Linked DNA regions of Homo sapiens: all the other regions are reported to be linked to region 1. The links are microRNA targets in miRTarBase. Many come from high-throughput screens and were not tested one by one. Region 1 holds a microRNA gene; each other region holds the end of a gene's coding sequence. Distances are from middle to middle.
The links. Region 1 holds the annotated microRNA hsa-miR-3136-3p (UGGCCCAACCUAUUCAGUUAGU, at 3,446-3,467, shown strand). A microRNA usually pairs through its seed, bases 2 to 8, with sites in the 3' UTR of a target mRNA and lowers its output. Matches are read on the target gene's strand: a 7mer-m8 pairs with bases 2 to 8, a 7mer-A1 pairs with bases 2 to 7 and ends in A, and an 8mer does both.

Region 2: miRTarBase lists EZHIP as a target of hsa-miR-3136-3p. Seed matches in the 3' UTR shown: 7mer-A1 at 1,083-1,089.
Region 3: miRTarBase lists ETV3 as a target of hsa-miR-3136-3p. Seed matches in the 3' UTR shown: 7mer-A1 at 1,722-1,728, 7mer-A1 at 1,688-1,694 and 7mer-A1 at 1,228-1,234.
Region 4: the mRNA of TGFA is a reported target of hsa-miR-3136-3p. Seed matches in the 3' UTR shown: 7mer-A1 at 5,482-5,488 and 8mer at 4,011-4,018.
Region 5: miRTarBase lists RAB43 as a target of hsa-miR-3136-3p. Seed matches in the 3' UTR shown: 7mer-A1 at 1,648-1,654, 7mer-A1 at 2,695-2,701 and 7mer-A1 at 3,979-3,985.

Annotation. Positions count from the first base shown.
Region 1 is chr3:69,046,065-69,052,432 of GRCh38, reverse strand. It overlaps MIR3136 (microRNA 3136), which reads left to right and starts at 3,398; the gene lies at 3,398-3,475. It overlaps TMF1 (TATA element modulatory factor 1), which reads left to right and starts at 100. Exons shown (of 17, transcript NM_007114.3): 1 at 100-488; 2 at 3,871-5,075. The coding sequence starts at 347. RefSeq lists an enhancer at 39-508.
Region 2 is chrX:51,407,641-51,414,008 of GRCh38, forward strand. EZHIP (EZH inhibitory protein) reads left to right here. Exons shown (of 1, transcript NM_203407.3): 1 at 1-1,203. The coding sequence ends at 888. Among named protein-coding and RNA genes, the nearest start is that of EZHIP, 3.9 kb to the left of the region's middle.
Region 3 is chr1:157,120,572-157,126,939 of GRCh38, forward strand. It overlaps ETV3 (ETS variant transcription factor 3), which reads right to left. Exons shown (of 5, transcript NM_001145312.3): 5 at 620-5,408. The coding sequence ends at 4,270. Among named protein-coding and RNA genes, the nearest start is that of ETV3, 15 kb to the right of the region's middle.
Region 4 is chr2:70,445,007-70,451,374 of GRCh38, forward strand. It overlaps TGFA (transforming growth factor alpha), which reads right to left. Exons shown (of 6, transcript NM_003236.4): 6 at 2,278-5,860. The coding sequence ends at 5,853. Among named protein-coding and RNA genes, the nearest start is that of TGFA-IT1, 33 kb to the right of the region's middle.
Region 5 is chr3:129,086,108-129,092,475 of GRCh38, reverse strand. RAB43 (RAB43, member RAS oncogene family) reads left to right here. Exons shown (of 3, transcript NM_198490.3): 3 at 1,130-4,904. The coding sequence ends at 1,380. ISY1-RAB43 (ISY1-RAB43 readthrough) reads left to right here. Exons shown (of 13, transcript NM_001204890.2): 13 at 1,130-4,904. Among named protein-coding and RNA genes, the nearest start is that of GP9, 29 kb to the right of the region's middle. RefSeq lists an enhancer at 3,482-4,026.

The DNA.
Region 1 (6,368 bases):
ACCCTTCCGCGTTCCTCGGTAACTAACGGCAACCCTGCGCTCCCGGATGTGACGTCAACGTTCTTCTGTTCTTCCGTCTGTCGACCGAACTCTGGGCTCGTAGATTTGGTTGCTGTGTACGTGGAAGAAGCAAGCGCATGCGCACATGGGCCCCCTTCGTCTCAGCTGTGCGGGAACGGCCGAGGGTAACATCCCGGGCTCGCGGGAGGCTGTCGGGGTAATGGCCACACGCTGACAGAACCAGCCGAGTGGAAAAGGGGAGCGAAGCCGTTCCTCTGCACCCTTCCCCAGGCCTGAGGCCTTCCCGCTTGGTGCTGCCGCCGCCACTGCCGGCTGAGGAGGGGCGATGAGTTGGTTCAACGCCTCCCAGCTCTCCAGCTTCGCTAAGCAGGCCCTGTCCCAGGCCCAGAAGTCTATTGACAGGGTTCTGGACATCCAGGAAGAGGAGCCGAGCATCTGGGCCGAGACCATTCCGTATGGAGAGCCGGGTAAGAGAGAGAGGAGCGGGGTTCCTGGCTCCCGGAGGCTGCTGTTCTCTTGATGCAGGCAGGTTAAGTGGTGTAGAGAGGGGTCCTTCCTTGCTGAGAGAGTTTTCAGGAAGTAATTTCTCCCCGGCCCGTTCCCTAATGCTGCTTCAGCCTCCAAGTCGGTCTTTGCTGTTTTCCTGAGGGAAAACCCAGATCCAGGTTCCCCCTTGTCTTTCTTTGGTCCTGGGTGCGAGGCTTGTGGACTTGGATGACAGGGGACTTGGTTGGTTGGTCTTGCCCTCAAGCTCTCCCTCGACGCAGCTTCCAAGCACAACCTTCCCGAACCTGAACCTCGAATTGCTTCGCGTCTCGGGCACTGTTGGGATCCAAGGTCTGAAGTACGTAAATCATCAGGGAAGGGAAGAACAATCGCTAACAGTCAGTGAACATTTCGCGCTTGGTAGCGCGTAATGTGGTTTTATGTTGTTGTTGAGACGGAGTCTCACTCCGTCGCCCAGGCTGGAGTGCAGTGGCGCGATCTCGGCTCACTGCAACCTCCGCCTCCCAGGTTCTAGCGATTCTCCTTCCCCAGCCTCCCTAGTAGCTGGGATTACAGGCGCCCACCACCACGCCCGGCAACTTTTTGTATTTTTAGTAGGGACGGGGTTTCACTATGTTGGCCAGGCTGGTGGAACTCCTGACTTAAGGCGATCCACCCACCTCGGCCTCCTAAAGTGCTGGGATTACAGGCACGAGCCTGTAATGTGCTTTTTTATGGCCTTCTCATCTTCAGAACAACTCCCAGAGAGAGCTTGGTTTATATCCGTGTTTTACATAAGAGGAAAATGAGGCCCAGAATGGCCAAGTAACTTGCTCTAGGTCACACGGCGGAGGAGGATTAGAATGTGCCGGAGGTATTAGCCGGAAAATGTGTGACCCAAGATTTCTGGATGGTATCACATTTTATTTCTGAATAGCCAAGTCTCTCTTTGCAGTTTCATTGAGCTTAATCTTTCAGGGATCTTCATTCAGTTGCTTTTGACTCTTAAGTCTAAGGAACAGTTCAGCATTTGATGTGTGGGGTAAAGATTTGCTGGTGTTGGGGGATGTGAACCTTTGTGTGAAAAAGGATAAGAGATGTACTTGACTACTCCTTTCTGGTTTCTGTTCTTAATTTTACATCATTGAAAAGTCAGGACCTAAATTTGAGGTACCTCAGTTTAAGATATTTTGGTCCATGTGTGTATGTGATGATCCTCTTTACTTTTTACAAGATGTCATATAACCTTGCTGGAGTAACTCTGTTTTTTCATATGTGCCCCAGTTAATTAGAATTACTAAACTTTAGATAAGATAGAATATAGGTTTTACATATAAGGATATTTGTTTTCGGAAAATGCCCATAGTCTTCAGAATGGTATAATTTAGATGGATACCAAATAACCCTGGGATTATATAAAGTATTCTCCAAGAGGCAAAATTAATTCCTGTCATCTTTTGAATGTATTTAAATTAATCAGACATAATCTTGGTTGTTCATTTGCATATTTAATTTTGATTTTCTCTGGTTTGGATATTGTGCAAATGAATGTGTAGAACTATGCCTCCAAACTGAAGTTTTCTACATACTTTTCATCCTAACTGCCTTTGAAGTCATACATATATTTACATATATATATATTTGTTTTTTTGTTTTTTTTTTTTTTGAGACACAGTCTCACTCTGTCATCCAGGCTGGAGTGCAGTGGTGCCATCTCTGTTCACTGCAGATTCTGTCTCCTGAGCTCAAGTGATTCTCGTGCCTCAACCTCCCGAGTAGCTGGGATTGCAGGTTTGCGTCACCACACCTGCCTAATTTTTGTAATTTTAGTAGAGACAGGGTTTTACCATGTTGGCCAGGCTGGTCTTGAACTCCTGACCTCAGGTGGTCCGCCCGCCTCGGCCTCCCAAAGTGCTGAGATTACAAGCGTGAGCCACTGCGCCTGGCCTGAAGTCATATTAAAGGATAGATTCTACTATAAGGCTTGATAGTTTTTAGAAGCTTTTAGTTACTTGTGCTCTCTCCACCAACTTCTAATTGTGAATATTTTGTGAATATTTTGTTCAGCCACATTTTAATTTGAAAAAGAAAACATTTTTAAAGAAATGCTTTAAATACTTTAACGAATATACCATTTTTAAGATCCTGATTATGCCATTTTTAAAAATCAGGATTTTAGTAGTAGCTATTTGTATGACTGATATGATAATTAACTTTTTCCCCAAGAAAACAGTCATTTTCTTTGTAGCGCTTTTTTAAAAACCCTAGTGTCAACCACCTCTATGTCAAAGAGCAATAGTTCTTAAAAAAACACACATTTCTGAAATTTATAATGACCTTGTAATTTCTGACATAATTTAGAATTTGAGAACAAAACTTCCTCTTAGAGTGGGCTTGGAGAGTGGGATTTAGAGAATCAGCCTGTGATTAAGTGGATGAAAATGAATTTGTTCTCTAGAACTTACCATTCCCATCAGTTTAATATGATCTTCGGGAAAGAACATTTGTCACCATTATCTTGGTTTGAGGCTTTTGTTGTTTTGTTTGTTTTCGAGACAGGTTCTCGATCTGTCACCCAGGCTGAAGTGCAGTGGTTTGATCATGGCTCACTGCAGCTTCCACCTCCTGGGCTCAGATGATCTTCCCACCTCAGCCTCCTGAGTAGCTGGGACCACATATGTGGGCCACCAGGCCCAGCTAATTAAAAAAATTTTTTTGTAGGGACAGGGGTCTCACTATGTTGCCCAGGCTTGTCTTGAACTCCTGGACTCAAATGACTCTTCTAGTGTTGGGATTATAGGTGTGAACCTCCATACCCACTGAGTTCAGTTTTTGAGTGTTGCCCTTTGTCTAGCTCATAACTATATTACTGATATTACAAGTAAAAATTAATATGAAACTGACTGAATAGGTAGGGTCATTTTTCTGTGACTGCACATGGCCCAACCTATTCAGTTAGTTCCATATTAGTTTATTTCATATTGATAAGTAAAGCGTGTTATTATGAGATGAATCATAGGTATCTTGGACTTACTGTGGGTTATAAAACATATACTGTTACTTCCTTAATTTGTTGTGGGGAGGAATAACATACTCGCATCTGGTAGTCCAGGCCAGGCCCAGTCTTTTGTCTGTGCTCCTCCTTCCTCTCAGGTGGACCCACACCAGTTTTCTTCCGTAAGTCCCTGTATTAACTTGGAAACTACTTAATGATGTAGTAAGCAAGGAGTTTAGCAGGTGCAAATTACAGGTATTTCATAGGGTATTTTTTCTAAATTTATATTTATACTGATTTATAATGATGATTGAAATATTAATGTAACATATATGTGTTCTTTTTTAATATTTACTTTTTTGTTAAAGGAATAAGTTCCCCTGTCAGTGGAGGATGGGATACTTCAACCTGGGGGTTGAAATCAAACACTGAACCTCAGAGTCCACCAATAGCCTCTCCTAAAGCAATCACAAAGCCAGTTCGGAGGACTGTGGTCGATGAATCTGAAAATTTCTTCAGTGCCTTTCTCTCGCCAACTGATGTCCAGACCATTCAGAAGAGTCCAGTGGTATCAAAACCTCCAGCAAAATCACAACGACCAGAAGAAGAAGTGAAAAGCAGCTTACATGAATCCTTGCACATTGGCCAGTCAAGAACTCCTGAAACAACTGAATCACAAGTAAAAGACTCTTCTTTGTGTGTTTCAGGGGAAACTCTGGCAGCAGGTACTTCATCACCTAAAACTGAAGGCAAGCACGAAGAAACTGTTAATAAAGAATCGGATATGAAGGTGCCAACTGTAAGTTTGAAAGTATCTGAAAGTGTAATTGATGTGAAAACAACTATGGAAAGTATATCTAATACGTCTACGCAGTCTCTCACAGCAGAAACAAAGGACATAGCTTTGGAACCTAAGGAACAAAAACATGAAGACAGGCAGAGCAATACACCTTCTCCTCCTGTTAGTACCTTTTCATCAGGTACTTCTACCACCAGTGATATTGAAGTTTTAGATCATGAAAGTGTAATAAGTGAGAGCTCAGCGAGCTCGAGACAAGAGACTACAGATTCAAAATCAAGTCTTCACTTGATGCAGACATCTTTTCAGCTTCTCTCTGCATCTGCTTGTCCTGAATATAATCGTTTAGATGATTTCCAAAAACTCACTGAGAGTTGCTGTTCATCTGATGCTTTTGAAAGAATAGACTCATTTAGTGTACAGTCATTAGATAGCCGGAGTGTAAGTGAAATCAATTCAGATGATGAATTGTCAGGCAAGGGATATGCTTTAGTGCCTATTATAGTTAATTCTTCAACTCCAAAGTCTAAAACAGTTGAATCTGCTGAAGGAAAATCTGAAGAAGTAAATGAAACATTAGTTATACCCACTGAGGAAGCAGAAATGGAAGAAAGTGGACGAAGTGCAACTCCTGTTAACTGTGAACAGCCTGATATCTTGGTTTCTTCCACACCAATAAATGAAGGACAGACTGTGTTAGACAAGGTGGCTGAGCAGTGTGAACCTGCTGAAAGTCAGCCAGAAGCACTTTCTGAGAAGGAAGATGTTTGCAAGGTAACTCTAGTAAGTGGAAGGGATTTTTAGATGTGCTTTTTGGAGATTAAATCATTTGTTTTAAAAAATACTTTCATTGATGCATAATAATTTATACAGATTTAAAAACATACGCATTTTGCCATTTCTGTGTAGCATTAAGTACCTTGAAGTTGAACAATTATTAATATAATTTGGAATTTCTCCAAGGCAATTATGGTAGAATAAGTTGATACTTCAATACAGTTAAGCATGAAAGTTTTCATCTTACATCTTTATTTTTGAGTCCTTATCACTTCAAAATTCTGTTATGCTTATTAGTATGTCAATTTGAAAGGAATATTTTCTTACATTAACATGTATCTTCACCTCCTTTGCAGATAGATGTGCCAAAAAAACTAAATGTTATGGTTTTTCTTGTATCAGAATTTGTTTTTACATGTTTACATTATTTGTAGCAAATATTAAATGATAATTTAAGATTTTAATTATTGGTGCTTTTCTGTTATTAGTATTTTCATTCATATATAAGGAGTATATATCCTTATATTGCTTCAGTTTGTTTTCTGCTTATGTTATTTTTGAGATCTCCTATTGATAGCTATATTTCACATGAACGAGAAAGAGAAATGTCTAAGGAACAAAAGCATTGCTTAGGAGGGACAGATTGCTTCTACCTAATACATGTGAAAGGAAAGTGATATAAATTCTTTGACATTAAGTCCTAGTTTTGGTTTTTACTGTGACTTTTAGATATACAAATTTAGTTGGATCTGGTATCTTTAATAGACTTCTGAGATGTAGGATGTCTTGAAGAAATGTCCTGTAAGTGCCATGTATTGAATTACTTAATTTTTTAAAAAAGTGCCAGATTCTGTTAATCAGGTTAAATATTCACAAACAAAATGCTGTGCAATAATATTTCAATTAGTAATAGCTATATACTGTAAGATATATAATAGGAGTTTGAATTCTTAGAAACCAGCACTAATTACTATCAGATATTTTTGAATTTCAGTGTATTTAAGAAGGTAAGTGATTTCTAAGTTCATCTAAACCAAACTCAGGTAAGACTATTTTTTTGAGTCCAAAAAGGAACCCTTCCTACTCCTTTTATACTCAAGTTTATCACCATTTGAGTAGGACCTAAGGAATTAGACATTCCAAGCATTACTTTTTGTTTAGCTTTATACTGATACATTATGGAGATTTAAAAATTCTTATGGGTTTTCTAAAATTACTTTTAGTGTGGATGGATGTATGTATGAATGAGACAGGGTCTCTCTCTATTGTCCAGGCTAGCGTGCAGTGGTG
Region 2 (6,368 bases), not on the chromosome of region 1:
GCAAGGCCTGCTACCCGAAGCCGCATCACCCTGGTAGCTTCTGCTCTCCGCAGACGTGCATCTGGTCCAGGCCCTGTCATCCGAGGCTGCACCGCCCAGCCAGGCCCTGCTTTTCCACACCGCGCCACTCATCTAGACCCTGCTCGTCTAAGCCCTGAATCTGCGCCAGGCCCTGCCCGCCGAGGCCGTGCATCTGTGCCAGGCCCTGCCCGCCGAGGCTGCGATTCTGCGCCAGGCCCTGCCCGCCGAGGCCGCGATTCTGCGCCAGTCTCTGCCCCCCGAGGCCGCGATTCTGCGCCAGGCTCTGCCCGCCGAGGCCGCGATTCTGCGCCAGGCCCTGCCCTTCGCGTCCGCACAGCAAGGTCAGACGCCGGTCATCGCAGCACCAGCACGACGCCAGGCACTGGCCTCCGGAGCCGTTCCACCCAGCAAAGATCAGCCCTTCTCAGCCGCCGCTCTCTGTCTGGGTCAGCTGATGAGAATCCTTCCTGTGGGACTGGCTCAGAAAGGCTTGCCTTTCAGAGCAGATCAGGCTCTCCTGATCCTGAGGTCCCAAGCCGTGCTTCCCCGCCTGTTTGGCATGCAGTCCGTATGCGTGCCTCCTCACCCTCACCCCCTGGGAGGTTCTTCCTTCCCATCCCTCAGCAGTGGGATGAGAGCTCCTCCTCCTCCTATGCTTCCAACTCCTCCTCCCCGAGTAGGTCTCCTGGCCTAAGCCCCTCATCCCCTTCCCCTGAGTTTTTGGGCCTGAGATCTATCTCCACTCCTAGCCCTGAAAGCCTTAGGTATGCTTTGATGCCTGAGTTTTATGCTCTGAGCCCTGTCCCTCCAGAAGAGCAGGCAGAAATAGAGAGCACAGCTCACCCCGCAACACCGCCTGAGCCGTGACCCTCTATAAGCATCCTCTAAGACCCACAGAAGGAATCAACATTTACCCACTTTGTGAATGGGCTGCCTGCCCTGTAGTTAGCTGCGAGGTCTCCCAAAGTTCCAGCCGTTAACCAACATCCTGAGTAGTTTAGAAGCCTCTCCTCCCCATGACTCCACCACCTAGCACTTAACCTGCTGTTGGCCTTTGATTCTGGGCCACCTTCTTCCTCAAGAGTTTGCCTTTGCCCTTGAGCTGAGATTTCTGTTTTCCAAGTTGCTTTTCTGTTATGAAATGTTTTAATTAGTAAAATAAATTGTTTTGTTTAAACAAAATGTAGAGGTGTGTTTTTTTATTGCGGTTCGAAAAATCGTTAATCCTATATCATATTTGGAGGGTTAAAGAAAGTTGTTAACATACTAGCTGACTCTTTGGACGAGAGAAGAAATAAAATACTGTCCTAGCAATAATTTATTCCCACTGGCTGAAATGGAGTTCTGTGCAGGAAGTTCCCACTTAGGTCTATATACCCTCTTAGCAGAGGTGATTTGCAACTTGGGCAAGAAAAGGGGCCAGGGTCTAACCCAGGTGGCTGGAGAAAAGGAGGGGTGATGGAGACATCCAGGGTCAGGAAAGGAGCAGGGAATGATGAAGTTTGGGATGAGAGGTAGGGAGACGATAACCCAGATGGGAGTAGGGAAGCTGGGAGGAAGATCCAGAGTCAGGAAATGGGGAACAGCAGGAGTCAGAAGCTTGAGAGGGGAATATCTTAGATTCTAAAGGATAAAAAAATGTTTATGTGTGGGGAACGGGCTCCTGAGGTCTTTGGGGGTGGGGAGAATGTGGGAGGGTGATTTGGGGCTAATAATTGATGGGAAAATGGTCAGACATTCAGTGGAAATACGTGTTAATCGATAATGTTACTGTAACAAAAATAATTGTAACTGAGTTTGAGCAGATATGTGAGGGTGTGTGTGTGTGTGTAGACATTTGGAGAGAACTACATGGGCATACACCATGCTGTGAACAAGGTGTATATCTTTTTTTTAATAACTGGTGATATGGTCTTCTATAATCTACAAGTTCCACATTGACCATATAACTATTTTTTTAAATTAAACTCCGCTGTTTTTTGAAAATTTAAGTTGTAGAAACATAATAGGAGAGACTACATTAAAAGAACAGAGTGAAAAAATATAAAGCAAACCAGCAAAAGAAACTCCCTTTCCCTCCTTTCTCATATTTCTCCTCTCCTTTGCTATTCTGGTATGTGAACAGTACAAGCATAGTCCTGACCAAAAAGGGCCCTGGTCACAATTTGGAGGGTCCTGTTCAGGCCCTGCTCATGCTTTATTCACACCACAAAGCTAAGAGTCCATGGGGGATAAGTGGGACCTGTGTGCCCACCAGGTCCCAACATCCTGCCACTTTTATAGAAAGTGTTTCAGGTACCCTCATTCTTCAAGGCTGTTTCTAGGGCTTGCAAGGCCGTATTCTCAGGGTCCTTCCTAAGGAAAGAACACATATTTTAAAAGCTCTCACTTTGTTATATTTCTTTTTCTTGAGTAATTCTAGATATCCAAAGACTAAGACAAAAAGTAGACAGTTCCAATGCAGCAAGTCACAACCTCCCAGTATTGGAGGGCCTACATTTATTCCCATTTCACAGATGTGGAAATTGAGGCTCAGAGCAATTTTGTGATTTTCAAAATCTCATAGCTAATAGAGCTTGGCTCCAGAGTCAGAATTCCTGGGTTTGAATTCTGGTGTTCCTATTGAATCACTGTGTGACCCAGTGCAAGTTAGTTAACCTGGGATCCAAAGCTTCTGCATTTGTCAATTGGGCACAGTAAGAGTGTACGTCTCCAAGATTATTGTAAGGATTAAAATGGATGGTGCATATTAAGTGCTTCCAACAGTGTCTTGCACATCGTGAGTGCCCAGTACAGATGGTTCTTACTCTGATTAGGATTATGATCATGTGTCCAGATATTTCTGACAGCCCCTTAACAGGTTACTGGTCTTTCCTAAACAACAATACTTTCAAAATCAAACTGGCTGTTTCAAAAATGGAGAGGGACATTCTTTATTGTACTTAGTACTTTAAAATATGAAGGCATTTCCACAAGCTATTGAGCAACATTTTTACCAATACCAGAGGCCACTGCGCAAAAATGTAAAAAAAAACAAAGGATTGAGCCTCAGAGGTACAAACTCTAGGAATTTAACAAATTTATACTCGCAGTCGTTACATGAATGCTTCTGAGAACAGTAGTTTTTCTCCCAGCGTTATTTGTATCTTAACTTGTTTAAAATATTCATTTTAATGAATGAATGGAATACATCAAGGATTAACATTATTGACTGCAAGTTGCCTTTATATAATACCTGGCATGCAGATATAACAGGTAAAAATCATAGTATGCTTGTATGTGTTAAGTACTGTTTTAACGTTTATACATACACTAACTCGTTTAATTCACAGAACAACCTTAGGAAGTAGATGTTCATATTGAGCCCATTTTATAGATGAAGACGTTGAGGAACAGAGGTTACATAAAATATGAAGGAAAGACACATTGAACTGTGGACTCTGTCATGGCCCCCTTGCGAGGTTATTAACTTCTTTTGTGAAGTAAATTGCATGATATGCCCCTGCACAGAGTACTACTGTTTTGCCAAGTGTGAAGGTAATGGTTTGGGCATGTTCATCTGCAATTTATTATGAGAAATGGTGTTGGTTTTGTATTGTGTAAAGTTACTCTATCAACCTAAACTTCATATGGAAGGTGAACAATTCTAGCCCAACCACATTAACTCATTTCACTCGTGAAAATATTCATAGCTGGAGATTATAATTGATTGTGTAGGAAAGACTTATCTACCTAGAAGCAGAAGCAGGTTTAGAAAGTAACAGCAACATTACAGGCCTTTCCTGGGAATTTGTGTGCCCTGTGTGTAGCTTCCCTTTGTGTCTCCATGTCTAAGTGGTGTCCAATCCCCAGAAACAGCTGTGAACTGGGAAAGAGGTGGGGGTGAAAGGCCCATTTCAGAGCCCTGCACTCCTCACAGCTGAGCACAGCTTTCACCCCAGGGTTCCTCTGTGGGGAACATGAAAACACCCGAAAATCCTTCAGCTGCCTTTCCCTGGAAGTTGCCACAATCAGCTACTATACTGAACAGTGCTGGTTTTATGGGCACGTGACCTGTGCAGTTGCACAGGCCCCTGCTTGCTTTAATGATGTGTTGTTGCCATCTTAAATGCTTAATGATTTTTGAACCAGTTGTCCCTCATTTTCATTTTTCACTGTACTTCACAAATTATATGGCTGATCCTAAAACTGTTTTTAGTACTTAAAAAAAAAATTTCTAGCAAGCAGAGTGCCAGGAAGTGTAGCTGGTGGCTGGTAATAAAAACAGATGACATTGCCATAAGAGTGAGCTTAGGGTAATGCAAACTGCATGAGACACTGGGGTTGGACAAGCCTAGGCTTGAAATTTGCCCCACCTCTGCCTTGCTGTGTGACCTTAAGTAAGGTTCATAGTCTCTCCGATCCTCAGTTTCCACACCTGCAAATTGGGGATAATAGTATCTACTTTATACTCACAACTTCCGAGAGGAGCCTAGGATAATCCTGTCTACCCACCCTTCTGGCTGTGGTTTAGGGTCCTTCCTCCGTGTTCCCAGAGCCTCTTGTTCTTACCCTTGCCAAAGCCCTCATTACACAATTTTGGAAATTATATTTCTGTATAACCATCTTCCCACTAGACTATGAGAACTTTGAGGACTTGGACAGAGCCTGGATTTTCCGTCTGTCCCCAGAACCTAGGGGCCCTAGGCCTTGGTAGGCAGAAAGAAGTATTTCTTGGCTTAATGGTAATAGTATAAGCTACATGCTTAATAAAGAATAACAACTAATATACAAAATATGTGTTGGAAATAATATGTAAGAAGTGTGTAAACCCAAGATATTTCCCTACTTAAATTTTCTTCACTCAGAGAGGGCGTGGCCTTTTACCCTTTTTTCAGAACCATCAAGAGCCAGTGTTTTCCCAATATCTTACTTCATAGTGTAACTGGCAACTTCTGTTACTCCCTCAGTCTCAGATTTGGCCTCACAGTGGACCTGCACTGGACATGGCACTGAAGGCTTCCCAAACACAGTGTTATTGATGCTAAATAGGCCGTCAAGAAATATTTGTTGAATAAATGCCTTGTTAGATTAATAGAAGCCAGCTAATTACATTATTTTATTTTATAGGTAAAAGGATTCTATATCATTTGGTCTTATACTGGCAAAATCGAGGACATGAGCTAAGAAGTCAGTGGAATTGTCAAGTTCAAGGAGCATGTTCACACACACACAAAGAGCCCACTCTCCCGGTGTTCTGTTTTTTCTATGACCACTCATTTCCAGTCAATTTCACTTTCTTCTCCTCTCCTGTGTTCCATTTTCACATCAATACACTATATTGCAAATGCCATCAAATTCATCAGATACAGACTTTTATTGAGCTTCTCAGGTTGTGTGACTGCCTTCCCAAACAGAATGTGAGCTTCTTGAGGGCAGGGAACATGCTATCTTGGTCATTACAAAAAACAGAATCTAAAATAATGCCTAAAATATGGTAGGAGTCACTGAATAGTTGTTGAATTAATTAATCTGTTGTGACACATATGAAAAAATATCTGCCTTTCAATTTGAGGATCGTTGTATAGGCACCATTATTCTATAGACACTACCTGTATAGGCAATATGTGTGTGGCTTTTTTTATCAGTTACCAGATGCATTCTGATATTCAGCTGTAAGGAATTGAGAGAGGATTATTCCAATTCCTCTTTCTACAGCATTTTTGTATAGTAAGTAGTACAGTTTTCAGTACACACCTTAAATAAGGATAGTGTTCCCCAAACCACAGGCATTCATAAGAAACCTTTAGGATTTCTTAAAATTTTCTTTCTTTGTGTCTTTCCCTTTCTTTCCTTTTTACTTGCTTTCTCATTATCTTTGCCTCTTCTCTCTCTCCCTCCATCTTTCCCTCTTCTCTTTCTCCCTCCATCTTTCCCTCCCTCTCTTCCCGCTTCCCCTTCTTCTTTCCTTCCTTCCATTGTATGGATAGTCCACAATTTTTATTTATCCAAACACATTAATGGATATTTGATTTGTTTTCATGTTTGGGCTATTACAAATAAAGCTTCCATGAACATTCATGTACAGATACTTGTATAGACAAGTTTTCTTTCCTCTTGAGTAAATACCTAATAGTGAAATAGCTGGGTCATGGTAAGTATTTGTTTAACTTTTTAAGAAACGGCCAAGTTGTTTTTCAAACTGTATGTAGAGTTTTATATTCCCACTGGCAGTGTATGAGTCCAATTCCTCCACAGCCTTGCCAACAATTGATGGGGGCAGACATTAAAATTTTAGACACTCTACCATCAATGATAGACTAGATTAAGAAAATGTGGCACATATACACCATGGAATACTATGCAGC
Region 3 (6,368 bases), not on the chromosome of region 1:
AGTACTGGTTTGCCCTTAAAAAAGTGTTTTGTACTTAAAACACCAAAACACCCAGTGAAACCACCTTTACTGAGATATAATTTACATGCCATAAAATTCACCCTTTCAGAGTGGTTGTCATTCAGTAGTTTTTGTTATATTCAAATAGTTGTCCAACTACCACTACTAAGTCCTGAACATTTTCATCACCCTAAAAAGGTAATCTGACCTGCTAATGGTTACTCCCCACTTTTCCCTGGTAACCACTAATCTGTGTTCAGTCGCTACAGATTTGCCTATTCTGGACACTTCATGTAAAAGGAATCACGCAATGTGTGGTCTTTTGTGTCTGGCTTTGACATGTACTCTTAAAGAATCTTCACAATAATCTTGAGATAGAAATTTCCACCTAACTTGCGTCTCTGGCTTCAGTTAGTTTTAACTGGTAGCAGCCATTCACTCAAGAAAATGGAAAATCTCCAGAACTGTTAAGAGACCTATTTCCTTACTATGTTGGTACCTGTACAATAGGAATAACAATGCATGAGGGTGGGGGAGCGAGGACGGACTTGGCAAATTCTCTGGCATGACCACCCCAGCACAGTGTATGATGAACAACAAAACCAACTCTCAGCAAACATTACTTAAAAGTATTTTTTTATTTAATTTCTGAGGTAAAATACTTTTTTCTTTCAACTTCCATAACAAAATACAGAGCTATCAGATACCCCTGGAAAAAATATGTATATTATACATATATTTCTATAACATTACATCATATATATATAATATATATGCAAAAATTTGAAGACTTTATAGAAAGCGGAACATCTAAAAGGCACTGCACAATGGAGTTAAGATTACTTACATTTTATGTACATATACACACTTTACTCTGCTCAAGCAGGTAACTAGTGAAGTCACCTTTCACATGTAAATGTCTCATTCACAAATCCCTGCATCACAATTCTATAACTCAAAGAATGCTTAAATATCTCAAAACAAATTAACTGGTAACTTTTTATCCCCCTAAGAAGAAACCAAGAATGGAACAGTTCTTGAAAGATTGAATCAAAGTTGTCTTCTAAACAAAATAAAAATGTACGTTCCATTACTGTTTACAAAACAAAAAGCACAAACATAATTATGGAATAAATAAAAAACAAGGGACAAACAGCCAACTGACTCTACCCACTTGGTGAGAAGTGATATACTTCAACTATTTTTTTAATGCTTCTGAAAGTTTCTTGGCCCACAGAGGACTAGGGTGCAATCATTCCCTGTGTTAGTGAGTTGGGTTTAATGCAGCTTCAAAATTAGGGTAAAGGGACTTGGTGAAATGTTTACATTAAATATTTCACTCCTACCCATTCTTCAGGAAAAAAGGTGAGCTCAGCAAGGCTGGATGCCATTAAGAGATATTTACTGTTTTCTTTTTCTATAGCTAAAAAAGCAAACTTTACACGAAGAAGCTCTTGATTAAGGAAATTTCAATAGATTCATATTTATAAAATTTTAAACATTTGGCACAGCAAAATTTGGAAAAAATGGGGGAGAAAAAATAGGTCTGGTTGTTGTCCCCCTTTTTCCACCTGCTGCTGGACAGTGATGAGATGCTCACAGAAGAAAAAGGCCTGGCTTTGTACCAGGCTGGCGACAGGTGCTACCAGGAGTGGGCTGAGGGGAGAAAAACTATCTCCCACTCTTTTGGCCCAGGCAATGTCAACGACTTCCACATTCCCTGGCCCACTTCCTGAGCAACCCCAGGTTCGGCTCTGTATAAGGACCCTCCCCTCCCAACCCCAACCCCAGAGTGCAGTGCAAATCAACCAACAATTTACTGGTGGAATGGCAATCAAAGGAAACAGTTAAACACCAAACAATTTCTTAAAGCCAAAAAATATTTTTCATGGAGTTGAACATTTTTCGAGTGTGTTTTTTTCAAGTGTAAAAGCAGTGACATTTTGTTCAAACAGAAGCAGCATCTAGGAATTCTGGCACTTGGGTTCTAGGGGGTTACAGGTATGCATCATGGATTCTTCTCCCTCGTATTTAAAAAGGCCTCGTGTTTCTATTCCTGAGTTCATACCAACACCTGCTAGCTCTCCCCTCTAGCGGACAGTGGGTGGCCAGCCAGCCTCCCTGGTTAGATTGGGCAATGCCAAGCAGACATCCCTCATTCACCTGCTGGGCTTGCTTTCTGATTCAGAGGTAAGTCGAAGTGCAGAGAAAGAAACTTACAAAAGCACAACCACCAAAGGCAGCCTGAACGGGGAGCCCTGTGCAGACTGAGTTGCTGGAGACTACCCTCTCAGTCCCATTCCTGGGGAAAGGTAGGTCACTCATGGAATTTGAATCAAACATGGGGGAGGACACCTGCCAAGCAATAGTATGATGGACTCAAGTCATCCCAGGCCATCTACTGTCTCCCTCACCTGCCCTAACCTTTTCTGAGTCCCTCCCTCTCTTGTGCAAGCACTGTAGTTTAAAAAGGAAAAAACACCCCCCACCATTAAAAGACAACCTTCAAATGTTACTCAGTATATAAAGTTTGCTTAGGCTAAGGTGGAGTCAGAAATGTCTCTAATTGTAGACACCATCTCTGTGCCACCCTTCCTCTCATCGGATATGGAGTGATTTCTTCTCTCGCTGCTGCGACGCAGATCTGAGCCACAGTCAGGTACCAATGTACACGACATAGGCACATGTGCAAACACAAAGAAGGTGGGCTGCTGCTTCTTTCTCTCTGCCCCTAGTCCAGGCTCCTTTGCTTCACGTAAGATTAACACTTTCCCATTCCTCTGAAGTTGCTGGAAGGACATTTCCCAGGAAGAAACAATTCCTCACTGCCTATAAACTGTAGTCTCATGTGGGATAGTCAATTGAACATGAGAATCAGAACAATCTGGGCAAATGGGTATGGCAAGAATGGGAACACCACAACAGGACAGATGCCAACTCTCATTCATGCCAGGCCTTTTGGCATCTGGGTGCCTTCTGTGTCTTCTTTCCACCTCTTCCTTCAGTCTCAACATCCACTTGTACCCCCAGCTACCTCCCATGTTTCCAGGTATCATTGGCTCTTAACTCCCACAAGCCTGCCTTTTGGCTACCCATCCCAACAATATCAAGAGGGAATGACTAAGTATCAGCTAGAAACTTAGCCATGTCTCAACATTCCTGGATTATCTGAAAAGCTGTCGATGCCCTTTTACAGGTTTATGGTGACAGACCCGTATCATCTTAAAGTATGTTCATAGTTAAGGCTTGACTTAAGAAAATAAGAGAACCAGACATAATGGAAAGACCTCTTCAATAATGTTGTCATGCCTCTCAGTGAACGTGCTCACAGTCACACTTGGTTTGGCTCCCCAAACCCACAATAGAAAAGGAAAAATGAGTATTTTGTTTTTCATCTGTTTTGTATTTAAAGGCATTGGGTTACTTCCTCCTGCCCTCTTTTCTTCCCTGAACAAGAGTTTACAACTCCTCATGGCTTCTTAATAGGTGAAGTAGGTGAAAAGTCTGAGAAGCTCACAGCAGGGTTTGCCGTCCCAACTATGCAGCTGAGAGGTCGCCAGCTCCTGTGCCTTCCCAGCCCCACTATAATTGGCAGTATGTTTGTTCATGTTTCCTGAAAACATTTTCTTTAAAAAGGAAAAGAAAAAAATGCCAAACAACACCAACCAAAAAAAAAAAAAAAAAAAAAAGAAGGAAGAAGAAAAAGAGCAACATCCAAACATTCCCCAAGCCCCACCCCAGTAAGTCTGAGATTATCTTATTCCTTCCCTGAAATAATTATAAAGAAGCATTTCAGGCAAAATACTTAGTATTAATGGTCTCTTACTGCTCAACCTCCCAACCATGCCCTTTTCCCTTTTATGTGTATCTCTTGGAGTAAAATAAATTCATTAATGGCTTTCCACATACAAATACAATAGAAAAGAAAGAAGTCTGGAACCTGACTATCATGGGACCAAAAAGTATCTTGGCCCTTTGGGAGTTTCCTTGTCAGAAAGTATAAGCCTCAACAGGAAATAGAGGCTCCTTCTCCTTTGAGTTCAATACCCTCCCTGTGTCCTACTCACCAGGAAAATAAGTGTGTTCATATCCCACCTAATTTACAACAGAAGATAACCCCATCCCATCCCCAAAACATAAAAATACAAGTCTATGCCCCTAGAATGATCAAACCAGTTTAACTCCCTCCCCCCCACCCTGAAATCTTGCTACATAAATACATGTATGTATTTGATTATAGTATAAACAGCTCCTAATCCACTTCCAGTTCTAAGCATCAGCAGCTGCTGTTGCCAAGCCCTGGGGTCCTGACCCATTCCAGAGAAACTTGCCACTCTTGCTCAGCTCTCGGGCTTCAGGGTCATCATTCCAGCGCCGCTTCAACCGAAGCTTGGGGGGCATCAGTGCATCTTCTTTCTTCTCAGGTGCACTGGGCTCTTTGCCAGGCCTATCCTCACTGTCTTCAGTCACCTCCAGAGGTTCTCCACTTGGGGTGCTAATGGGCACAGAGGGCCAGATGGGTGGTGCAGCAGGACGGGCAAAGATGGTGCCTTTTTCCTCTTCAATGGTCCTGCTTGGCACAGTGCCCTCTTCTTGAGTGTGCTCCTCCTTCTCTCGTGCCGACTGCCTGAGGCTCTCAGGATCCTTTTCAGAGGCAGGTTCCACCTTGATTCTTGGGGGAATAGAAGCCATGGTGGGCGTGGTGACTGGTGCTGACTCCTCGCTGCTCTCAACCCTCTCCCGGTTCTTCCGCCCAACTGGTGGGGGCTGCAGCTTGATGGAGAACTGAGTTGACTCCTCAGGATGCATTTGGCACTGCAGTGGTGGAACCATGAGCCCTGGGTAACGGGGAAAAGTCCGAGGACTCAGATGGTAGTTGAACACAGAACAAGCTTGAGAATGAAGGTAGTGTTTCATTTCCTCAGGGTTGAAGGAGAAGCAGCTGCTGCTGGTGAAAGGGCTCAGGCCTGGTGATGGGCTATAGGAGAAGATGGTGGGAGTCAGGGAGAGGGCTGGTGAAATGGGGACATTAAGGACACCTCCGCGGCCAGGGATTGGAGAGACAGCGAAGGGACTGTGGGGGTCAGGGTACATCCCTGGCCTAGCAAACAGAGGAAGCATTATGTCAGGCTTGCGTTTCTGATGGCCAATCCCTCCTCCACCAATGGCATTCCTGGAGGACACGGGATCCACACCCCGGCGCCAGTCAGCAGCTGAGCCATCCTCCAGCTCTGAAAGCTCAGTCTTTCTATCAGTACCATTACTGGACTCCTGGCCAGAAGCAGTTAGGGAGCTAGCAGAGAACCGTCCCGGCTGCACATCATTGGTTGGAGAATGGGTGTCCAGAGGTGGGAAATGGAACCGGGAAGAGGCTGTTGGCACTGGTGGTGCACTCTGAGGAACCACACCTGTGATGGTGGAAAATACAAAAGCCTGCATCAGAGGACTGCTCATTCATTATCATCACTTATGCTAACTAAGTGCAAAATATTTAGTAGTAACAGGAAACAATCATTCCAACTGGACTGAATCCCACAGTTCTCCAACTTCCTAGTAACTACTGCTCAGCTGCTTCTACTCAACTTGTCATCCTTCTCTAGGCTCTTCACTGTCTTCACAGTACTCCTTACTGTCAAAAACATTGTAATTGCTTATCCATATTCTACAACCTAAATTCCACATGGCAGGGACTTCCTATTGTTCACAACTGTACACCTCACAGTTCAGGGCTTAACGGTTGTGTACTTCCTGTACACAATAAATATTAAGTGGAATGAATGAATGGGTACAAGAGCCTTCTCCTCTGCAACTCTAAATATTGTGTATATATTACCTGTTTCAATTTTTAGCTCTGCAAATAGTCTTATTTCCATAATTTTGGCCATATATATATATTCGTGTGTGTGTGTGACGAGGTAGAGGTTTACTGAAATATAAACATTCGAGAACATTTAAGATAGAAAATAATAACAACATATAGATAGTTGCTACAAGAGGACATCTGATGTTTACTCACTGCCTAGACTACCCACATGCTATCCCATTTTTCCTTGTTGGAATACAGATATATTTCGAGATGGGATATGGGGAGGGACAGAGCTGCCCTGGCTGACTGTAGGGAGGGGCAGAGCTGCTCTGGCTGACTGTGCGGAGGGGCAGAGCTGCCCTGGCTGACTGTGCGGAGGGGCAGAGCTGCCCTGGCTGACTGTGCGGAGGGACAGAGCTGCCCTGGCTGACTGTAGGGAGGGACAGAGCTGCCCTGGCTGACTGTAGGGAGGGGAAGAGCTGCCCTGGCTGACTGTGGGGAGGGACAGAGCTGCCCTGGCTGACTGTGGGGAGGGGCAGAGCTGCCCTGGCTGACTGTGGGG
Region 4 (6,368 bases), not on the chromosome of region 1:
CACGCTATGAAACAGGCATCGCTAGACACAGCTTCTGTGACTGCAAGCAATTCACTCCTGACTTCTGGAGGTGAAAGGCTGTGGTGGAAATCTCAGAGCCTGCTGGAAGTAGCAAGTCCTGCAGAAAGCAGTTGCGGAAGAGAGGTTTCAGGAGCCAGGGGGAAAAAAGTGCTCATAGTGAAGCTCTGAGTTAGAGAGGAAGCAAGGCAAGGATTATACTCAAATGTCCCCAAACAGCCAGGCATAAGTCAGGGCAACTAGGAAAGATAGGGGTCTGAAGTTTGGGCCAACAGGATCCAAAAAGGCTAGACCCAAAGCATCCAGAACATGGCTTTCAAGTTGTCAACTGCAAGTCAACTGGATGAGGAAAGGTCTGGCTTGATTCAAAGTTGATCGGTGCTTTTTCCTGGAATGGGTCCTCCCCACCCCAGACAGTTCAGTGCACCTGACCAGGACAAGGGGCAATCACTGGACCTTGGTTCTGGCAGGCAGGCAGCCTTGGCAGGTAGATGGTTTAGAAATTGGGAAGGAGGAGAAAAAATGGGGACTAGTGAAAAATCCCACTGGTTAGGAAGAAGGCCTGGAGATGTCTCTAAAGACTGAATAGGGTCATGAGGAGGAAGACCAGGTTTGGGTAGCAAGTCTCCCCACTCTCTCTTAAGAGGTAGGGAAAGACTTTACTGAGGGCCAGATGCCAGGCCAGGGAGCTTGGGATGAAGAATTCCTTGAGTTTCCATCTTTCTGCAAGTTTGGCTGATCCTAAGCCCTCTGGGGTCTGGACAGCAAGCTCCACATGCTCGTCCCTCCCTACAAAGAGTAGAACCTTCTTTGGGGCCCAGGATTTTATACTGTGCAGCAACGATTTCACCCTCCACTTCTCTGTGAGTGCTTCCTATGTTGCATATGTGAAACCCACCCACAGGTTAGAAGTGCAGAGGCCTGGCTGGGTGCAGTGGCTCATGCCTGTAATCCTAGCACTTTGGGAGGCCGAGGCGGGTGGATCACAAGGTCTAGAGATTGAGACCATCCTGGGCAACATGGCGAAACCCCATCTCTACTAAAAATATAAAAATTAGCTGGGCGTGGTGGCGCACACCTGTAGTTCCAGCTACTCTGGAGGCTGAGGCAGGAGAATTGCTTGAACCCGGGAGGCAGAGGTTGCAGTGAGCCGAGATCACACCACTGCACTCCAGCCTGGGTGACAGAGTGAGACGCCATCTCAAAAAAAAAAAAAAAAAAAAAAAAAAAGTGCAGAGGCCTTACTATGGGCTTGTAAGATCCGGTTGACAGTTTTAGAACAATTCCTTATAATTAGAGACTGGGTGGTAGGGAACAGGGGTGGGTGAGCCCAGGGGTATGGTGGGAGATGGACAGATCTATTTTTTTCCTTCAACTAGGCTGAGCAGAGAAGATCCAGATAAATGCAGCCCTTCATTCAAGGCTACACTTTCTGATGGCTATTACATTTGAACTCCAAGAGGTAAACTCTGTTTCACTTCTTCTGCAAAGCCTTTTCAAAGCTTTTCCATAAAACTGTAGCTCAACACTAAGTAAGTTGTCCCTTCACTGAATCCTATAGCACAGTAGTTCTTAAATTTGAGCATCAGCCAAGCGCAGTGGTCCACGCCTATAATCCCAGAACTCTGAGGCCAAGGTGGAGGATTGCTTGAGCCCAGGAGTTTGAAACCAGCCTGGAAAACACAGGGAGACCCCGCCTCTCTACAAAATTAAAAAATATATAAAAATTTTGAGCATGTATTAGAATCACCCAGAGGGCAGAGAGAGTATGGAGCACCCCCACAGTATAGTAGGTCTGGGCTGGAGCCCAAAGATTTGCATTCCTAACAAGTTCACAGGTTATACCAATGCTGCAGGTCTGGAACCATGCTTTGAGAACCACAGCTGTTAACATATATGCTCTACCTTATAATTTCATCTCTTATTTGTATTGTCTAGAAATAGTCCTGAATTATTCTTAGCGTATCAGTCTGTCTTCTCGACCAGATTTCAATTCCTGCAGTGGCAGAGGTTGTATATATTTTCTACCACATCAATTAGCATTATTGGACACATAGTCTACTAAGTACTTATACACTGGGAAGAGCTTCAGAGAACTTGAATTCTTCAAGGAGACAGGGATCAACTATGGTTAATTATAGGATTTCCACATTTTGCAAAAGATCATCTAATTTTTCCTCATCATTCATATTTGCAGAGAAAAGTCTTCATTTCCTTGAGCAATATCCTAATCTCATTAAAGAAACACTCCAGTCTTGATTTAGGAAAAAAAGATTCATTCCTTCATCCTTCCAAATAAGGTACAGTACAACTCAATAACAATGCACATTACTGAAAAACACAATTGCGTCTTATATTGCTCACTACTCTTTAAGTATAATTCAGATATTAAGGAAAATAACTGCTAATCACATTAACACATTACAGAAATCAAAATTAACTTACCACACAAAATAAATTAAAACATTAAATATTAACCTTTTCAGTGCAACATATACAGACATCAGAGTAAGGAGTTCTAAAAAAAAGCATCAGGTTTATTATAATAAAGATAATGAAAAGTTGACCATTTTAGTAAATTATTAAGACTAAGAAGAGGAGTTGCTTTTTCAGTACTCTCTCTCTCTCTGTGTGAACCACTAGATCTTTCAGAAAGCCTGGTAAATCAATGGCTAGAGAGAACAGGTCTTATGTTAGAACATTTAAAAATATACATGTTTGTCTTACTTCTGCAATGTGTTCTTGGTTTTGGGCATTTGAGTCATTCCTCCTTCTGTGACTGGGCAGGTTGGAAGAGATCAAAGCCCAGAACCAACTAGAGGGCAGGGGTCTCCTGAGCAGTGTTAGAGCCTCATTAGTCCATCCCGGCCAAATTGACTGAAAAAGCAACTGGTGACCCATGTGCCCTCGAAAACCTGGCTTGAAGATAACAGGCAGTTTTCTGTACCTGCAAAACACAATCCCTTGAGAAGCTCCAGAAGCACAAATTCTCCTCCCTTACCAGTGTGGGTGGGTGAGTGGCAATCCCATCTTTTTCTCCTTTCTCAGGGAAAAGAACTCTAGGGCCATTCTGCCCATCTCTCCTGCGGGGACACAATGGCCAGCCCATCCCTGGCTTGGTTCCACGTGTGTCCAGCCGGGGCCCTGTCTTCCAGATCAGGGTTGGCTGCTGTCTATCTTTCCATGTAGAAGAAAACATTTCCTGTCAGGATGCTTAAAAAAAGTCACAGCCTGTAGAGCAGTGGGAAAAATCCAGGCTCCATAAGAGTATTGGAGGCCTTTTAAAAAATGTTTGTTATTTTTTTAAATGGGGGCTTTTCATTGTCTCCTGAGCCATTGGAAACAGCGATGCTCCCCACTGCCAGGTGTGTGGCAGCTTACCAGGTCAGGATGTTAAATGATTCTCTAATTGTAGTGAACAATTCATTTTCTAAAGGGCAAGGAAACACAGGGAGCTTGCAGAGATGGATTAGAAGATGCATTTTTAACTTGAAATGGAGTATTTTTGCAGCTAACCAAAGACTACCATTGCCATTAAATGGCAGAGGGATCCAATGCTTATCAGTCATTTGATTTCTAGAAGAAAAATCCCCAAATAAGCCAGGCTGTTCTATCCTGAGGCATGGACAATGGTCCAACCAGGCTTGCATTGATGCAGCCTCTTTTTCAGACCTGCTGGTTTCCAAAGGACTGACTTGGAAGGCACTTCTAGGGAGGCGTATATGTGAGGCCTCTCACTGCATGTGTGTTACAGGCATAAGGATGAGGGCACTGGCAGGTGTGACTTGCTGGACCTAGGAACTAGAACATTCACAGACACTAAATCTCAAGTCTTCGCAGGGAACCTCTGCTTCCGCCATCTGTCCAGCCTCATTCCTACGCCTCTGCAAAGTCTCTTGGATGCTAACTACTGATTGATAGAGGTCTAAAAACCAGTGTCCGTTGATTGGTCTCTAAGCAGGATGCTACAGTCAAGCCTCAACCCACATATCTGGCCCAAGGGATGTAAACTTGAACTTATTTTAGTAATTTAAAAACCTGGAGCTGTGTCAACTACGTTGCTAGGGGGTCAGCTCTGAACAGATCCAAGTGCTTCAGGTGTGGCATTGTTAAATAAGAGTGCCAAAAATGAAGACACGGGTCATAGAATTGTCTGAATTATAAAAAAAAATAAAGAGAAAATTCATAGAAATTGTTCTTCCAGACCAAGGAAGAAGAATTAGGGGAAGACAAAATTCTCTGAAAATTTCAAGCCAATTTAACATATTTTAAATGTACCTTTCACGATGTAATAAGCTAGGTGCACTTAAGAGTTAATACATAGAAATCTTTCACTTTTCAGATATTAGTAGCATTTCCTCACATAAGGAGTTTATATATTATTTCTTCATTACTCTGTTTCCAAATTTTAATGAAAATTCCTAGGGATGAGCTATCCACTATGTATTTGAAGGGACCCACTGTTTCTCACAGGCAGGCCCCATGGGTCAGATGGACCCAGATGCTCAGGGGAACAATTGCTCCTTCTCTTGAGGGGAAAGGAAGACCCACATAGTGGAGGTGACTTGTTAGAGTTTTTGTTAATAAAGCCGGCATCCTGAATGGAAATGAGGAAAAAAAAATTACTGGAATAGTTTTCCTAGTGCTCGAAAATAAATAGCAAAGTTAAACTTCTCCTTTTAAAAATAAAGCAACAAACCAACCAAGCAACAAAATGGAAAATAAATGACTGGTCCCCCTTTCATGGATTTGGCCTGAAATGCCTATGGCTCGTGGCTAATGTTCTATTTCTAAACATACTTACCGAGGGCTCACGAGGAAGTGAACCCATTTAATCACTGAGCAGTACAATATGTATTGGGTTTATCCTGTGTAGACACACACACTCTTCCTCTCTCCCCAACAGAGGGGACAGATCCCTGCTGATGGATTTGCTAAGTTTTCTCCCAGAACGTATTGAGGCATTTACCGGCTTTGTGGCTTCAATGGCACCATTTCTGAACCCCTACCTTTATTCCTACCAGTAACCCAGCCTCTGGTTCCATCTCCGCACCCTGGAAGACTTTTCCCAAGCCTTAGCTGTCTTGAAGAGGCCAGACATTTCTAATCAGTATAGCTTTTCAGTCAGCAACACATACATCATTAATGTAGAAGTCTGAAGGGGTTTTATACTTTTTACATTGACTTAAGAGATTAAAAATAAAACCATTATCCATCTAATAAATAAGACATCATCTCCAAGGGTGGCGATAGCTTGGGATGGTCTTCAATGTCATGTGTCCATGGAAGATGTTGGGCTGGTTGAGGGTCTCGTGGTTAGAGGATACAGCTTCTCTTAAAGCTAGGGTCTTCATGTGATATTAAACAGTTTCCCCTCCTTCACTTTCTTCCCCAGTAGGCAAATGACAGAAAACAATAACTATAGAAATCTCCTGTGTTGGGCAGAATTCTGTTGTGGGGAGGTGGCCCATTAAAAAGAAATATATAGCCTGGAATCCATGGCTGGCAGAAGACAACTGCACACATGTGGACTCAGACACCAACTGCTGCACACACCTCACCTAGGTGAACAGGAGTCCGTCTCTTTGCAGTTCTTTTTTAACAAGTCTTGAAATCGTGGTCCGCTGATTTCTTCTCTAGGTCACACTGAATAACCCCAAGCAGACGGAGTTCTTGACAGAGTTTTGAAGGCCCACAAAAGGCTGCACAGGTGATTACAGGCCAAGTAGGAAGGTCTGTGGCACACCCAGGCATCTCTGGCAGTGCTGTCCTGAAGAAGCCTTTCTTTATTGATCTGCCACAGTCCACCTGGCCAAACTCCTCCTCTGGGCTCTTCAGACCACTGGCAGGAAGGAAAAACAGGTTAAGCACTGTGGGCCACACCCTGGCCACGTTGGGAAAATAAGCTTAGGAAAGAGACTTGGAGATGGCAGAGCCAATGTCACCAAGTTCTCTCGGGCAGTTAGGCCCGAGTCCAAATTCTGCTGGTTCAGTCTCAGGGACCGCAACCTCTGACCTAGTACTTTCAGTGCCAAAGGAAGCTAGAGAGACTGATTGAAAGTGAGTGAGTGAGTGAGTGATAGCAGAAGGAAGGCAGATGGGGGGGAGCGGGGGGATGCCCCCTGTTGTGAGGGTCTCATTTTAATCTGGCCTGCAGTCAGATCCTGTAAGGGGTGGCTTGGTGGGCAGCCCTAGTCCAGGGCTCTGGTGGCAGAAAGGCTTCCCCTGAGGCCATACAAGAATGGACCCATTTATTTTTCAATGGCTGGGCCCTGAGGGTATCCTCTGTGTCTGTCGTGGTGAGGCAGCATGGACCGTCCTCAGTTCCTGAGTTCAGCTTAGCCTGGACA
Region 5 (6,368 bases), 60 Mb from region 1:
ATAGTATAATAATGAGCCCCCAGGTACCCATTACCCTGCTTCAGCAATTAGCAACTGAAGTCCAACCTCCTCTCATCTGTACCATGTCACCTCCCCTCCCTCGGATTATTGAGACAAATTCACATCAAACCATTTCACCTGGCAGTATTCCAGCATGAACCTACAAAATATTTAAACACTTAAAAACAGCAATATTATTTTCTCATCTAAAAATACTGACATTTCCTTAATAATATAAAATAGCCAGTCTGTATTCAGATTTATAATTGCCCATAAAATTCATATGTGTTTTATTTTTTCCAGTTTGTTGAGATCAGGATCCAAATAAGTTTCACACTTTGAAACTGGTTGCTACATCAATTAAGGTTACCAAGGAAATTTTAGATCTTTACAGACTTTTTTTTTTTTTTTTTTTTTATGACGGAGTTTCGCTCTTGTTGCCCAGGCTGGAGTACAGTGGCACAATCTCGGCTCACTGCAACCTCCGCTTGCCACTCCTGCCTCAGGCACCCGAGTAGCTGGGATTACAGGCCCCCGCCACCACGCCTAGCTAATTTTTTGTATTTTTTTTAAGTAGAGACGGGGTTTCATCATGTTGGCCAGGCTGGTCTTGAACTTCCAACCTCAGGTGATCCACCCACCTCGGCCTTCCCAAATGCTGGGATTACAAGCATGAGCCACTGCGCTTGGCCCAGACTCTTTTTTTTTTTGTCTTCCTTATAACCACATTACAAAAGTCAACCATGTAGAGACTTTTAAAAAATTATTCTAGAAATTGGGTCAAGGAGCAATTTAACAGATTGTTTGGAATGTAATGAAGTCATCTCATACCATCTAGGAGGATCTGGGTAAATTGAGACGGGGTCTCACTGTGTTGCCCAGGCTGGTCTTGAATTCCTGGGCTCAAGCAGTCTTCCTGCCTTAGCTTCCCAAAGTGTTGGGATTACAGGCGTGAGCCACTGCACCCGGCCTAAAAAAGGTTTTTTAAAGAAAGACAGATGACCATGCCAGGGGTGTCCATTTATAGTGGTGGAAGGGAGTGGCATGGGGCTGTCAGCGTGACCCTCCCAGGTGGGACTGGGCTTGCCCAGCCCCCATGGCCTCATGCTGCCCCGGCTTTCCTCCGCAGGGAACAAGTCAGACCTCAGCGAGCTTCGGGAGGTCTCCTTGGCTGAGGCACAGAGCCTGGCTGAGCACTATGACATCCTGTGTGCCATTGAGACGTCTGCCAAGGACTCGAGCAACGTGGAGGAGGCCTTCCTGAGGGTGGCCACGGAGCTCATCATGCGGCACGGGGGCCCCTTGTTCAGCGAGAAGAGCCCCGACCACATCCAGCTGAACAGCAAGGACATCGGAGAAGGCTGGGGCTGCGGGTGCTGACCAGGGGCCGGGCCGGCAGACTGGGGGTTCCCCACCTCCTTGCTCTCCCCAGCCTGCCAAGCCCAGCCCTCCAGAGCCAGCCCTCCTGGGTACCGGCAACTACAGCAGCCGGGTGAAGCTCTGGAGCTCTGCATCCTGTGGCCTGGCTGCGGGATGGAGGCTCTCCTTGAGGAAGGGGAAGCAGGATACCCTGGCGGGCCACCCTGCCAGCCAGCAGCTGGCCCTCCACCATCTTCACATTCCAAGACTGGCCTGAACCCGCCGGTGTGGGCCACAGTAGGAGGGGCCAGCAGTCCTCCCTGTCCCATGCCTGCTGGCTCTGACCGTTTCCTCTCATGGGTTTGCTTTACCTGTGGCAGCAGGTTGCTGCTTTCCAGGGATGTGTCCAGTGCCCTGGGTTCTTCCCGGTCATCCTGGGGCTCTGCACAGAGCAGCAGAGCTAGAGCCATGAGACCCACAGACTTGGTGCCTGAGCGCAGCTCCAGGGAAGCCCCAGCCCCTTCCAGGCGGGGAACCTGCTTCCTGCCTTCACTGCCCCCGCAGCACTCACAGACATCTCCCTGGGGTCTGGCTCACTGCCTTATCAGGACCTCTGAGTTTTCTGACTTTCTGTGTAGCTTCTCATTTTCATCAGCACAGCATGGGGTCACGGCCCACAGCTAGGTGGGGTCACGGCCCACAGCTAGGTGGGGACTGTCTGCTGGCTCAGGGCCCAGTGTTTTGCCACTCAGGTTGCAAAATTAGCTAATCCTTCAGTGCCAGCACTCAGAAGTCTGGCAGGTGGGGGAATGAGATGAGAAAGTGGACATTTAAGGTCCAAGTAGAAGCTTGCATCCTTGAGGCTCAGGGATGAGAGGGCACCGCAAGGCACCCAGCCTTACCCCACAAGCAGGAATCCTGCCAGCCGAGCGTGGGTCCCAGTCTATGGAATCGAGTCTCCCAGACAAAAAAGGAGAGGCCCTGGCGGTCCTTGGCCTGGCCCATTTTATTCCCTGGACCCTTAACTGCCTCACCCTGAGCTGGGCACCAAGGTTAGAAGGCAAAAGTGGGGTAGGGGGATGTGGGAAGCAGCATTGTCCTCTGGGCATGTGGCTCAGAGGTATCACAGTGACAAAAGAGCCAGGGCTAGGGCTGGAGGGGCCAGGTGATCTTCCTTAGCCAATCCCAGTCCGTCTGTGTCAGCCCAGCTCTGCCTCGCAGCCCCCTCAGCATGGGTGCCCCCAGAAGTAAGCAGCTCTTGGACCCACGAGCAGGGCTGCGTCGGTTTGTGGTCTAGCTCCCAGGGGCAGGCCAGGCATGGCTCAGTGCAGTCCCTGGGCCAGTGAGAGGCCTCCCCCATGCCTCCCTGCCCTCTGCACTAAGCACTTTCCAGGCAGGCCTGGCCATAGGGCAAGAGCAGGCCTTACAGCAGTGCCACGGTGACCCAAGAGGCAGGGTTGGGGCCTGGACAGGGTTTCCTCTGCTGAGACTGAGACAAGCAGGGCTTGATGCTGGTGGTGGAGCCAGCATCTCACCTGCCAGGCTTCCTTTTGGGCAGGGAGGCTACCTGTGGAATGGCTGAGCCTGGTTCTGCAGGGGAGGAAGGCTGCCAGGAGCTGAGGGGCTAGCACCTGCATTGAGGGGAGTCTGGGTGCATCAGATTGGGGGGCGCCAGAGGCGAGGCTGCCTGGCTCCCTTTCTCAGCAGCTTTGCTTGTGGCAGGGGTGAGAGTGGAGCTGAGTGGGGTCTGGGCTCTGCCCCTGCGCCTCCACTGCAGTGCCTGGGCTCCCCTTGCAGGGCAGACAGTGCCTGGCACTGAGGGGTGCCCCCAGACCCCGCTGGGACTGGATGTGCCGTGGGCAGTGCCTTCCTCCAGCCTCACAACCTTTCTGCTGGGGCTGAAGTTTCTGGGGTCACATGGTCAGAAGGGGCTGAGCTGGTCTTTCACTGCAGGCCCACTCTGAAAGAGAAATCCCATGAAGCCTGTCCTTGCAGAGCCCCTCTGTTTTTGGGGGAACAGGGAGCATTCACAGGGTCTTGGGAACAAAGGCCTGGGCCTCCCCGTTTGAATTTCAGCCCCAGTTCCAGGGCAAGTCCCAGCCACCCAAGCATACTTACCAGTACTGCCCACCACCACCCACTGCCCACCTCTAAGAAGCCCGGCTCTCCTACTCTGCTTCCAGGCTGGGGCCTCACAGGTGGGGCTGTTACCTTCCTCAGGGCTTAGGGAGGGAGGGAGGACATGGACAGGGCCTTCCACCCTGGCTCCTTCACAGGGATGGTAGCTGACCGGTGATGGGTTCATTTGTCACCTTGGACTGTGAGCCACTTCCACTTCTCGCCCCCCAGGCAGGAGCACCCTCACTCCAAGGGCTTGGCCTGGAAAGGCAGGCTCACCTGGGACTCAACGTTCCTTCCCCCGCCGCCACTGTGCCCCCCGTCCCTCCACCCCAGAAGCCCTGACCTCATTTGGGCACCTTGCTGTCCTCTGGGCTTCTCCTCTGCCCAGGTCACCCTGTGGCAGGCCTGGGCCCTCAGGATGTTTCAAAGGCTCCACAGCTCCACCGCTCCACCTGGCTTCACTCCAGCACCCTGTCCCTGGAGCACCTCTGTCCTGTCTGGGCCAACCTGGTCTCCCTGCCCCATGCCCTCCCCTGGCTCTTAGCAACCTGCCCTTTTATTCATGCCATTTGGGGTCACAGATGCCTAGCTGGACACAGCTCCCAGAACTGGCTCCACCCTGGGGCCTTGCCCCTAGTACCCCCTGGCAGGAGCAACCCACCCCATGGTCGAGGTTCCCCTACCCCTGGATCCTGGACTGAAGCCATTTCCTACAGAGAAGCGTTCCCACCCCCTCTCAGGCACAAAAGCCGGTGTCCAGGGACTCAAGACCTGTACCTGGGGTTGCAGGGGCTCCTGCCCTGCTGTATCCCACCAGGAGGGGGCCCCACTGCCCTTCCGGCCCTTAAAACTGGGCTGGGAGAGAAGACGGGGAAGTGTGTGAGACAAAACAAAGCCGGCTTGTTTCCTCCCCTTGGCAGGCTAAGCTCTCCCGGCAGCCCGGGCTCTGGGGCGGAAGGAGAACAGTGTCATCTCTTCCTTTGTTGATAAATTGCCAAAGAGTGGGAACAGGTGGGGTCAGGGGCCAGAGTGCAGGGGAGGGGGCAATGGTGGAGGTGGCGGGGGGAAGCAGAGGGAGGTGGGCTGAGGCCTCGGTGGGGCCAGTGCGACGCTGGCTTAAGGAGCTGGAGGGGTTCCTAATACACATTTAATTCAGTTTCTCTTCCCTAAGAGGCTGCCGGAGTTGGGGCCTCCTCCAGCAGAGACCCTCGGACCCCTGCAGGGCCTGGACTTGGGGTGAACAGGGCTTCAGTCAGCGCAAGTATTCCATTTGCATTTGGTAATTTTTCATGCCACCTATTTATGAATATATAAATCTTTATACCAAATCTATTTTTTAAAACATGGAAAAGTTGCCTTTATGGAAACTTGGCAGAGCCAGAGTGTACACATTCCTAAACCATTAAACAGATTTCTATAACAAGCCACTGCGCCCAGGACTGGTTCTCTGATCTTTGAGCCCAGAGGCGGCCCAGGTGGCCACGTGCCTCAACTAGTCTCCAGGCCCGGGGTGGTAGACAAGCTGCCCCCTGCCAGTCTGCCACCCAGAGCACTGTGAGACCTTCCCTCTGTCCCTAAACCCTTGGGGGACCCCCCTGAGCAAGAAGCAGTTGGTGCCTGAGGGGCAGAGGAAGCTTGGGCTGGGTCCCTTCTCTGGGACACCCCAGGTTCCTCCCATTGGGTTTGTGTTGGAGAGGGCTCTTTGGTGATTGGCAGGGGCACCCTCACCCCGACCTCCCCATGAGGGAAGCGTCACTCTCCTGAGCACACAGGCCTGGATGAGGAATCCCTTGCCCGGGTCTTGTAGCCACATTGATCCCACAGTGGCAGGAACAACCCACCCCATGGTCGAGGTTCCCCCCACCCCTGGATCCTGGGCTGAAGACATTTCCTACAGAGAAGTGTTCTCACCCCCTCTCAGACACAAACGCCAGTGTCCAGGGGCTCAGGGCCTGTGCCTGGGCTTTGGGGGGCTCTGACCTGTTGTTATTCCGAGTTAGGACTTAAGAACACCATGAGGGGCTCTTGCTTCTGTGATGTGACCAGCACAGAGATGTTACCAGGCACACAGTAGATGCTCAGCTTAGAGAAGTGCCTGAATCAGGTCTCTGGCACTGGGAAGCCCATGAAATCCATAGCCTGCCCACCAATATAATCAGGGGTCTATTCCTGGTCACTCAAATAAGGGGTTTTCTGCCGAAAGGGACTCTTAAACAGCAGGGCTGCTGGTTGGTCACCCTGAGGAAGAAGAGGGGGGCCTAGCAGTGCTGCACCACCTTGCCAAGCCTGAGACAAACTGACATGATGGGGCTCATAGCAGCCTGCCGTTGAAACCTAGGTGTGCCCTGACTGTCCTGTGGTTCTGGGCAGGTCACTTCTCCTCTCTGGGCCTTGGTTTCCTCAAACCTGGGATCCTATTCCCTGTCCCATTTGCATCCCGGGGAGCCCTGAAGAGACCCCAGGAGGGGAGTGCTTTATGCACTGAAGGCCTGGAACAGGGCACTGGAGGAGGAAGACCCAGAGCCCTGGCTCTCAAGACAGGCCTGGCTCCAGGCACCTGCCATCCTTCCCAGGGAGAAGGAAGGCCTGATGTCTGAACTCCCTCTTCTCTTCTGAATGCCAGGAAGCACCAGAGTGCGCGTGTGCCCCTTGTAAGTCAAACCCATAACCAGGCCTGTCTGAGCCCGGCCATCCGCACGCTCCCAAGAGGCTCAGACCTGGGTCAGTCTGTCCCTAGGGCCCTCTGAGGCCTCTACCCAAACAACAGGACTGCCCAGACCCCAGAGCAAACAGACAGCACAGGTCCACTCCTTGACTTCAAAGTATGGAAGCTGAGACTGGATCCCAGAGAGTCTTGCTCAAAGCCCCACGATGTTCACTTCTGAGCC